2 linked regions of the Homo sapiens genome follow. The protein of the gene in region 1 purifies or fractionates together with the protein of each later gene. This does not show direct contact. Each region holds a gene or a part of one and is shown on either strand. Other genes may lie near its edges.

Region 1 (4,857 bases):
TTCTTTTAAGAAGTTTATCAGCAGATGGACACAGTAGAGGAAAAATAAAACCAGTGAACTTTAATCAACATAATCAACATAAAAATTGTTAAATTATTTTAATTCCTTTTAAATACTGTCTTTAAAATCCAGTGTATATTTTACCCTTACAGTCCATCTCAAGTCAGGCTAGCCACACTTCAAGTAATCAACAGCCACATGTGGCTAGTAGCTACTGTTGTTTATTATGTAACAACACTTCTAAATATTTTACATGGATTATTTCATTTAATCCTCCCTTGGCACATATAAGAAAAAGTAACTTGTCCAAATTCTCACAGATAAAGATGGACTCAAGATTCTAACTCAAGCAGCCTGACTCAGATCTCCTGCTCCTAACCATGCTTTTCCACCTCAAATCAAGTTTTTCTGCAATATTACTGAAATGTTCAATTAAATCAAATTAATACCTGGATTCCTGCCACTGGTATCCTATTTTCTGGAAACCTAAATTTGTGGTTTCATATAAAAATTGATTTTTTTCCCCTCATGATTTAAAATCTGAAAGAAAAGACTTACCATTAATATGAGTTTTTGATATTTTTGTTTTAGGTCTGATATATTTGCAGATGGGTCTGCTCCCAGGATGCTGTACCAATCCTTTTTTGGCATCTGCTCAACCGCCATCATCCATGGAACCAGAAGTGGGCCTTCTCAGATTAGCTGAATAGAAATATTAATGACAATTCATCACAGTTTGCCATGTATCTAAGAAAAAATTAAGTACTGCCCTTGTAAATTCTTTAGTATTTAGTCGAGTAAATCATGATTATAATGCAAACCTGAGGAAGCACAGATTTTCATTTAAAATGCCCCAAGAATTCCAGGTATAAGTGTACCGACAAGTATGGAAAACGTGTTAGGTATTTCACGATATATATTTATACTTTAATTAATGAACAGCATTAAAAAAAAGAATTTTATAATGAACCAGGTGGTGTATGAACCTCTAAGAAGGTATTTCTGCTAGTCTTATGATAAAACTGGCACACAAGTAAGCACCCACTAAACACGCTGGAGGAGCTTAATGAATATTTACAAAATGAACGAATAAAAAAAAAGCAAAACAGAACATCAAAGAATTAAAATAAATTTGGGGGCATTCCTTCTGAAAGTTTCTCGTTTGCTTTTCCTCCAGATTGTCTGGAGAGCATGATATGGGAAATAACGTCAGCACCAGCTGGTAGAGAACAAGAGTCCCCTGTTATTGGAGAGGCGCTGAGACCTCGCAAAGACAGAGTGAAACTCTCTACGCGAGGATGCCCCAGTCTTCCACGCTCCAGAAGAGAGACCCTACCAGGAGCCCCAGAAATCAGGCAACCTCTTCCCACAGCTATATACACTTAACGAAACAGCCGGGGCCTCCTCAAGCTCGGGACTTGGGAATCTTCTCCATTCACAGTCGGCTTTACCCACCCAGCCATTGGCGGGCACCCTCTCCGCGCTTTATACGACATCAGACCTACCTAACTTCACATAGGCGCTGCTACCCACTCCTCGCCTGCTGTCGGCCAGAACTCCGGACCGGCTTCTTCTTCCGCCGGAAGTCACTGTTCCGACGTGTTCGCGTTTCTGGCCGAGCTGATGTGGCCGTGGCACAGCTCAGAAGCGACGCTCCGCCCACCCCGACGCGGTCTCTATGGTAACCGGTCACCGCTTCTATGGAGTGGCGTTTACTACCAGTAAGTTCCCAAACTGTGAAGAAAGGCGCCTTTGGCTTCGCTCTAAGTCTCTCTTTTCCGGGCCCCGCGACTGTCGCTTCTCTCCTCCTCCTCAGCGAGCACCCCCTCGCCATCCCAGGCTTTCCCCGCCTTTTTCAAAGCTTCCTCCGTTTACCGTACCCTGAGCTACTCTCAATCTTTTCGGTTGGTGCTTGAACTCTGGGGTGAGAGAGGGGTGCGGGGGCAAGGATGTGAGAAGGATGAGGAGACCTGATGCCACTCTCGTCCCTACAGTTCCTTTACAATGTTCTAATTCGAAAATTAAAAGAACTAAAACCTATGCCAGGTAGGGCTAGATGTGCGGGGGATGGGGTCGGTTTAATTTTTTCTGCAGAAGATATTCGACGTAATTATTAATATTTCTTTTAGACCTTAGCAACCAACTTACAACATAAAAACGTTCCAAAATTCTTTCACATTTGCTATTTCACTTCGCTTTCATTTCAACCCAGTGAGACAAGTAAGGCAGGTGCCATTATTCCCACTTTATAGATGAGGAAAGAAATCAAGGATCAAGGCCAAACAGCTAGTTGGGTAGGGGCAGAACAAGGACTCAGCAAGTCTACACATTCCCAGGGCAGCTATGCTATCTTTCAAGCTTACAGAAAAAAGCAGAATGAACTGTTCTTCTTCGAAGCAGTTAGGGGGCACTGCATATGGGCACTGTTGGGGTTTGTTATTGTTGCTGGTGGTGGTGGTGGTGGTGGTGGTGGTGTTTTTCTCACCTTTCTTTCTTCTCCCTTTCTTGATTCCTGTGTTTCCTTTTATTACTTCTTTGTGCTGCTTACTTTACATTAACACCTCTTCCTAGCATTGTACCTGGAGATGAAAACTACATCTTATTTTTGGCCAGCATGACATAAATTTCACTTGGAGATGTTAAAATGGTTTTGTTGTTACTGCTTTGATTTTGCTTTCCTTCTTTTTTAAACTTCTACCAATCTGAGTTTGAGAAGCAGTCAAGATAAACTTAAGCAGAATAAATAAAATAATCTAATATGATCAGTTATTTAATGATGTTATGAACTATAAAGAATAACTGAATGAAACAAGCAAGTTTAAAAATCTAAAGATGAAAGCATAGATTAGGTTCTCCACAGGGTTTTGTCATGTTTAAAGGCAGATACAAAGAGCATCTGGTTTTAGTCCTGGCTGCATCATACTTTCTTGTGTGGCCTCATGAAAATACCTAAAGCAATGGAATTAAGTAGTGTGGTGAATGCTTTTCTAAACAGTACTGTCAGAATGATGCCACCTTGAACATCTCTAGCCCTCAAACTCCCTTCTGTCCACAGCTTGGTTCTTCCTTGTGTAGGTAGATATGCTCCGGTACTCCAGGTTTTTTGTTTTTTACAGCAAAAGCATTTTATTTTGATTTACTATTTATTAGGTTATTGTGTTACCTTATTTATTTATTGGGGTTTGGAAAGTAAGAAATAGTTTTTTTCCCCAGCAATACCAAATATTTTGTCATTTCATCTCTACATACTTTAGTTTGCATCCCTAAAATGTACCAACTTTTTCTTTTATCTCCATAATGTCATTATTGGACTGTCACATAATATCTAGACCTTACTTACATTTCCACGGTTAATTGAAAATGTCTTTTTCTGGTTGGTTTGCTTGACTCAGAATCAGACAAAATGTACACTTTCCATTTAGCTGTTCTGTCTCTTAAATATCTTTTAAATTATAGCAGTCCCATTTCTTCACTAGAACCTTGTTTTTTTCTTTACTTGCCATTGGCTTACTGAATGAGAACAGTTGTCTTACACTCTGCTTATACCAAAATAAACTTCTTAAAACAATTTTTACATAAATTTCTGATCATTAAGCTTCCTTCATTTTTCATTTTATAGAGCAGTACTTTCCAATAGAAATATAATGTAAGCCGTAAGTGCAAGCTACAAAATTAATTAATCTAAAAATTATTAAGGCGATACTTTACATTCTTTTCTCCTACTAAGTCTTCAAAAGCTGGTATGTATTGTGCCCGAACACACCTCAATTTGAACTAGCACATTTCAAATGCTCAGTAGCCACATGTGACTAGTGGCTACTGTATCCAGCAGGGCAGGTCTAGAGAATAAAGTCCTAACTCCTTAACCTAGCATTCAAGTTACCTCTTCAATATGATCCTTACTTTTCCAACCTCCCCTATTATCTCCATACATTAAACATTTAAACAATTGGATCTTTTCATGGTACTGAAATCAACCCAACAGTCCCATAGACAGGGTTTTGTTTGTTTGTTTAGTTTTGTTTATTGGGGTTTTTTAAATTAATAAACATAGAAATGGACACTTCTTTTCTGAAAGCTTGAAACTTGCATTTGTTTTATCTTTTTGTTTGCTTGTTTGAGACAGAGTCTTGCCCTGGTGTCCAGTCTGGAGTGCAGTGGCATGATCTCAGCTCACTGCAGCCTCTACCTCCCAGGCTCAAGTCATCTGCCCACCTCAGATTCCCAAGTAGTTGGGACCACAGGTGCATGCCACTATGCCTGGCTAATGTTTGTATTTTTTTTTGTAGAGATGGAGTTTCACCATGTTGGCCAGGCTGGTCTGGAACTCTTGAGCTCAAGCAATCTGCCTGCCTCAGCCTCCCAAAGTGCTGAGATTACAGGCATGCGCCACTGCGCCCAGCCACATTTTGTTGATCTTTATCTCAGTTCCTTCCTCAAGAAAGGATGCCCAGACCTCTCAACAAGTATCAAAGAGCTGAAACTCACCAGATTACTGCATCTAGACAGTGATATGCCAGACCCCTCATTCTTCGTTATTGTTTCCTTACCCTTCCTTAGTTCCTGTTTTCTCATACGTAGTTAACATTTCTTCCCTGTTATATAAACCCCTAATTTTAGTCAGTGAGGAAGGTGAATTTGACACTGATGTCCCATCTCCTTGGCTGCAGCATCTGATTAAAGCCTTCTTCTTTGACAATAATCATTGTCTCAGTGATTGACTTTTTGGGTGGTAAGCAGCAAGACATAGATGGAACTCCTGGTGTTTTGGTAACAGCATTTCATCAATAATTGTGTTCAAATGCTTCTCCTTACTTATAACACCCTAATTCTTTTCTTCCTCCTATCAGAGTAATC
Region 2 (3,870 bases), on another chromosome or scaffold:
AAACTTTACAATGAAAGTTAATCCCAAACACTTGCTGATAACTGCATTGTTTCACATAGGTTAAAATTCAAGAAAAATGTTTGAGGTAATAATAATTAGGAACTAGCACAGCATCCAAAATGGTATTTTAATGGAAAATCCAAATGAAAATCCAATACAAATCCTGATTAAAACCTAGCCAAGCAAAAAACTACAGATTACCTGGATTCCAATTAAATGTGACAAATGAATACTTGACAGGTTTCAATTCCAATTCTATTTATGTCAGAATGATCCATTAATACTGAAGATGAAATTACCAGAATTTAAGCAACACAATTGCACTTTATGGCTAGATGAGTAGTCTGAAAACACGGACCCAACAAATTTGTTACTCAAAGGTCAACTGCTACATTTAGATCAGCCACAGTGCATCGCATCTCATTTTGTCATTACCTATAGATCAAGGCTAACATGAATCACAGCCAGTAGATGACAAATGGTCATATAAACTCTGACTTTCAAGTGTTGGTCACATACAAAATCAGGAAAGATCCGTTACATTATCATGACCCTTGCTTTTGACAGGCCTTAAAAACTTGGTTCTAAAAAAGAATTAAAAGTCGTTTTTTGGAACTCTTTCTCAGTATACTTTATATTTTATTAACAAGCTCACCTGTTAAGTTTTCCATGACATGTGTGTTTCCTAAAAGGTAACCGATATGTGTTTGTCATATATAATTATCTTTTAATTATTCATCATTTCTTTCTTATTTTAAAGGTGATGAATCCCCATAAACTCATAAAACAGAAACTAACATTAAAAAATGATTATAATGCCAGTGGTGCAAAGTCCTTTTTTAATAAAGCTGACATCCAAAAAATAAAGATTTAATTGTACATTCTGTGCTTTACAGTAAGAATAAGCACTTTTAAAAACACAAACAAAATTATATGTTCTCATGAACAGGTAATCTCAGATGTAGTAATACCCCTAAATTAAATTAATCCTGCCTTCCTAGGTATGCTCTATTTATCATCTATCTATATTAAAAATACTGTAATTACATACATATGTACATATAAGTAATTATATGTACTATATACATATTATATATTACATATATCACACATACGTAATTACACGTTACACATATGTAACGTAATACACTATAGTACATGTGACTACATACATGCAATTACATGTGGCTACATACATGTAATTACATAATTATCTTTTAATTATTCATCACTTATTTCTTATTTTAAAGGTGATGAATCCCCATAAACTCATAAAACAGAAACTAACATTGAAAAATGATTATAATGCCAGGGGTACAAAGTCCTTTTTTAATAAAGCTGACATCCAAATTACATATGTAATTACATAGTATGTATGTAATTACAGTATTTTTAGTTTAATTTCTTTTTCCAAATAATTTTAAACATATCTGCCTTAAATATATATTCATCAGCATTGCAATTCATACCAAAATTATATGCCCATTAAAAAAATTACTAAAAAAAATGTAACTCTTAGAAACCACACCAGACTCCCATCCACATAAGCACACACCACCATACACACAGATAAGCATGCTTTTATAGCCATAAGGCAAAATGCCATTTTAACTCTGCAAAATTAATCAAGAGGGACGTCAATCATCAGACCCTGATATCATATTTTCTTAACCAAGAACAATGTGGATAAATAATTATTTAGCATAATATAATTTAGCAATACTTTCATTTGGGGTCCTTTATAATATATTATATTCTAATATTGGATTTTAATATTCATAGGTAAACTTACAGAAGAAAATCAGTCTTTCTCCTGCATTAATATGCTCTACTTGCATATATATCAGCACTAAAGAAACGGATATATAACAAAAAGTTAGAGCGTCTTATGTCACTCGGGGGTTGAGATGGCAAAAGACATAAATCCACTGCAAGTTTTACTAGGGATAAAATGTGTGTGATTCCTTTCCTTTCTCTCTGTTTAACCATCTCTCTCTTCATATTTGAAAGAATAATGAAGTTAGGATGAATTTTACCATTCCATTATTTGACACAAACCTATTCCTCAGGCATTTACTTATGACTCAAAATCCAGAAAATAAATCACCAAATTATCTCTGGGAATATAAACAAATGTGGAAAGTTTTATAAGTGCTATTTGCAATCTAAATGTATAACTTAAAAGAAAATGTATACAAGGCCAATTGTGGTAATTATGAGAATCACCTCAAAACAGTATAAAAATATGGAGTATTATGATTTATTTTCCTTCCTTTCTCTCACATAAAAATAAAAAAAAACCTTATACTTGAATAGGAGGGAAATTCTAATAGCATTTATTGCATACTATGGAGAACAAAGTAGTACTGTTCTCTTTTGACCCTATTCAGTGATCATAGGAAAGGAGAGGTTTGAAAATGCTTTTCTAAACATCTAGGACAAGAAAAGGTAGAGCAAGGTATGTTTCTTTCATTTCCTTTCACTAAGACTGGACAGCTGCAATTGAAGAAATAGTTGCATGACAAAAATGAATAGAAGAAAACAATTAGACAAGACCTTTCTTGGTGACTATTGTTTAGGAATTCTGCACTTATTTAGCTTCCTTCATAGTGGGCCCTGTTCTGATTTATTTATAAGTGCGTTTATTTCTGACAGGATGTTTTAAAATGATGGTGCAATTTGGGTGAATTTTATCTACAGAGTTATGTTCCTTTATTTGGCATTTCTGTATTTTAGCAAATATTTATCACTTAAAATAAAATGGTTTTAATGTCAGCTATTTTATTTTGGTTTTAGACTGACCTTCGCGAGTCTACTTATTACGGCTCACTAGCGTGATTATGTGTGTGGATGTTGTGTTTGCCCCTACCATTTTCCATATGCTCTGCCTCACCAACACTGCCATCCGGCGTGGTCCTTTCATAGTTGTCCTCTGGGAGTGGAAGCGCACCCAGTCTTGGCCCTGATGAACTCTTACTGCTTGGTGTTTCTGACTCCTCCAGCCCGCTGTCATAGCAACTCTGCAGTGACCCCTGATGTGGGTCCTGAGGCTGACTCACAACAGAAAACGTCACTCTACGAAATGGCTGCAAAAGAAAAGATTCTGAATGTCACTACGATGTAAGATTGTAAATGATCTTATTTTAAAAAATACATAAATTACATACATTAAGGTCTACTGGCAACTAATTCAATACAAAATGAATAGATATGTTGAAACTGCATTAGTTAACTATGTATTATCTAAGGCAATGTCTAGAGCTTAGATTTTATTATGGAAAAACTGGAAATTCCCTTTCAGAAACAGAGATAAAAAAACAGTAATTTCACTAAAACATACATTTAAATCTGATATGTTAGTTCCACATATTCAACCTTTTTCTATTCTATAGTATTCACTTCAGATATGCTTTCCAGAAATGGCCTCTAAAAAAACAAGGTCAGTGATTTGTGAAGGCAGTAAATATTGAACTAATCCATTGTAAGAAGACTCAATTTTTAAATACTTTGTCCATATCATACAAAGCTATAAAATCAAATGGGTTGGCAGTTGACTTAAACTGTTCAAAGTACAGCTGACAAATAGGAATTTAGATGCAGTGCTAGGAAACACAAATATGTTTATTACATCATTCCTATAAAAATATTGCCTATGGACCTTGAAATTGTAAGAGTCATATTGCAATAATAGATAAAAGTATCCCTAAACAGTGAGTAGGAAATAAACTATAAAGTTTAATTGTATGTTCTTAATATTACTGTTTGTGATTCGTTCAATAAAGTAAAATCATGTACAGCCTTTAATTTGTTTTTAAAAAATTTTATGAAACTATCCAGTTGAACTCCACAATTTACTATGTTACTGACAAT

The links. The genes of interacting proteins can lie anywhere in the genome.
Region 2: the proteins of DCDC1 (region 1) and PCDH7 purify together in Homo sapiens (affinity purification with mass spectrometry; one large-scale study listed by BioGRID and IntAct). This does not show direct contact.

The regions. Positions count from the first base shown.
Region 1 is NC_000011.10:31,366,561-31,371,417, reverse strand, and holds the start of DCDC1 (doublecortin domain-containing protein 1), read left to right. Parts: upstream 1-1,678; 5' UTR 1,679-1,721; intron 1,722-4,857. Other genes in the region: DNAJC24 (dnaJ homolog subfamily C member 24), read right to left, coding at 559-669. UniProt on the Homo sapiens protein: Microtubule-binding protein which plays an important role in mediating dynein-dependent transport of RAB8A-positive vesicles to the midbody during cytokinesis.
Region 2 is NC_000004.12:30,919,369-30,923,238, reverse strand, and holds part of PCDH7 (protocadherin-7 isoform d precursor), read right to left. Parts: intron 3,087-3,870; coding exon 2,870-3,086; intron 1-2,869.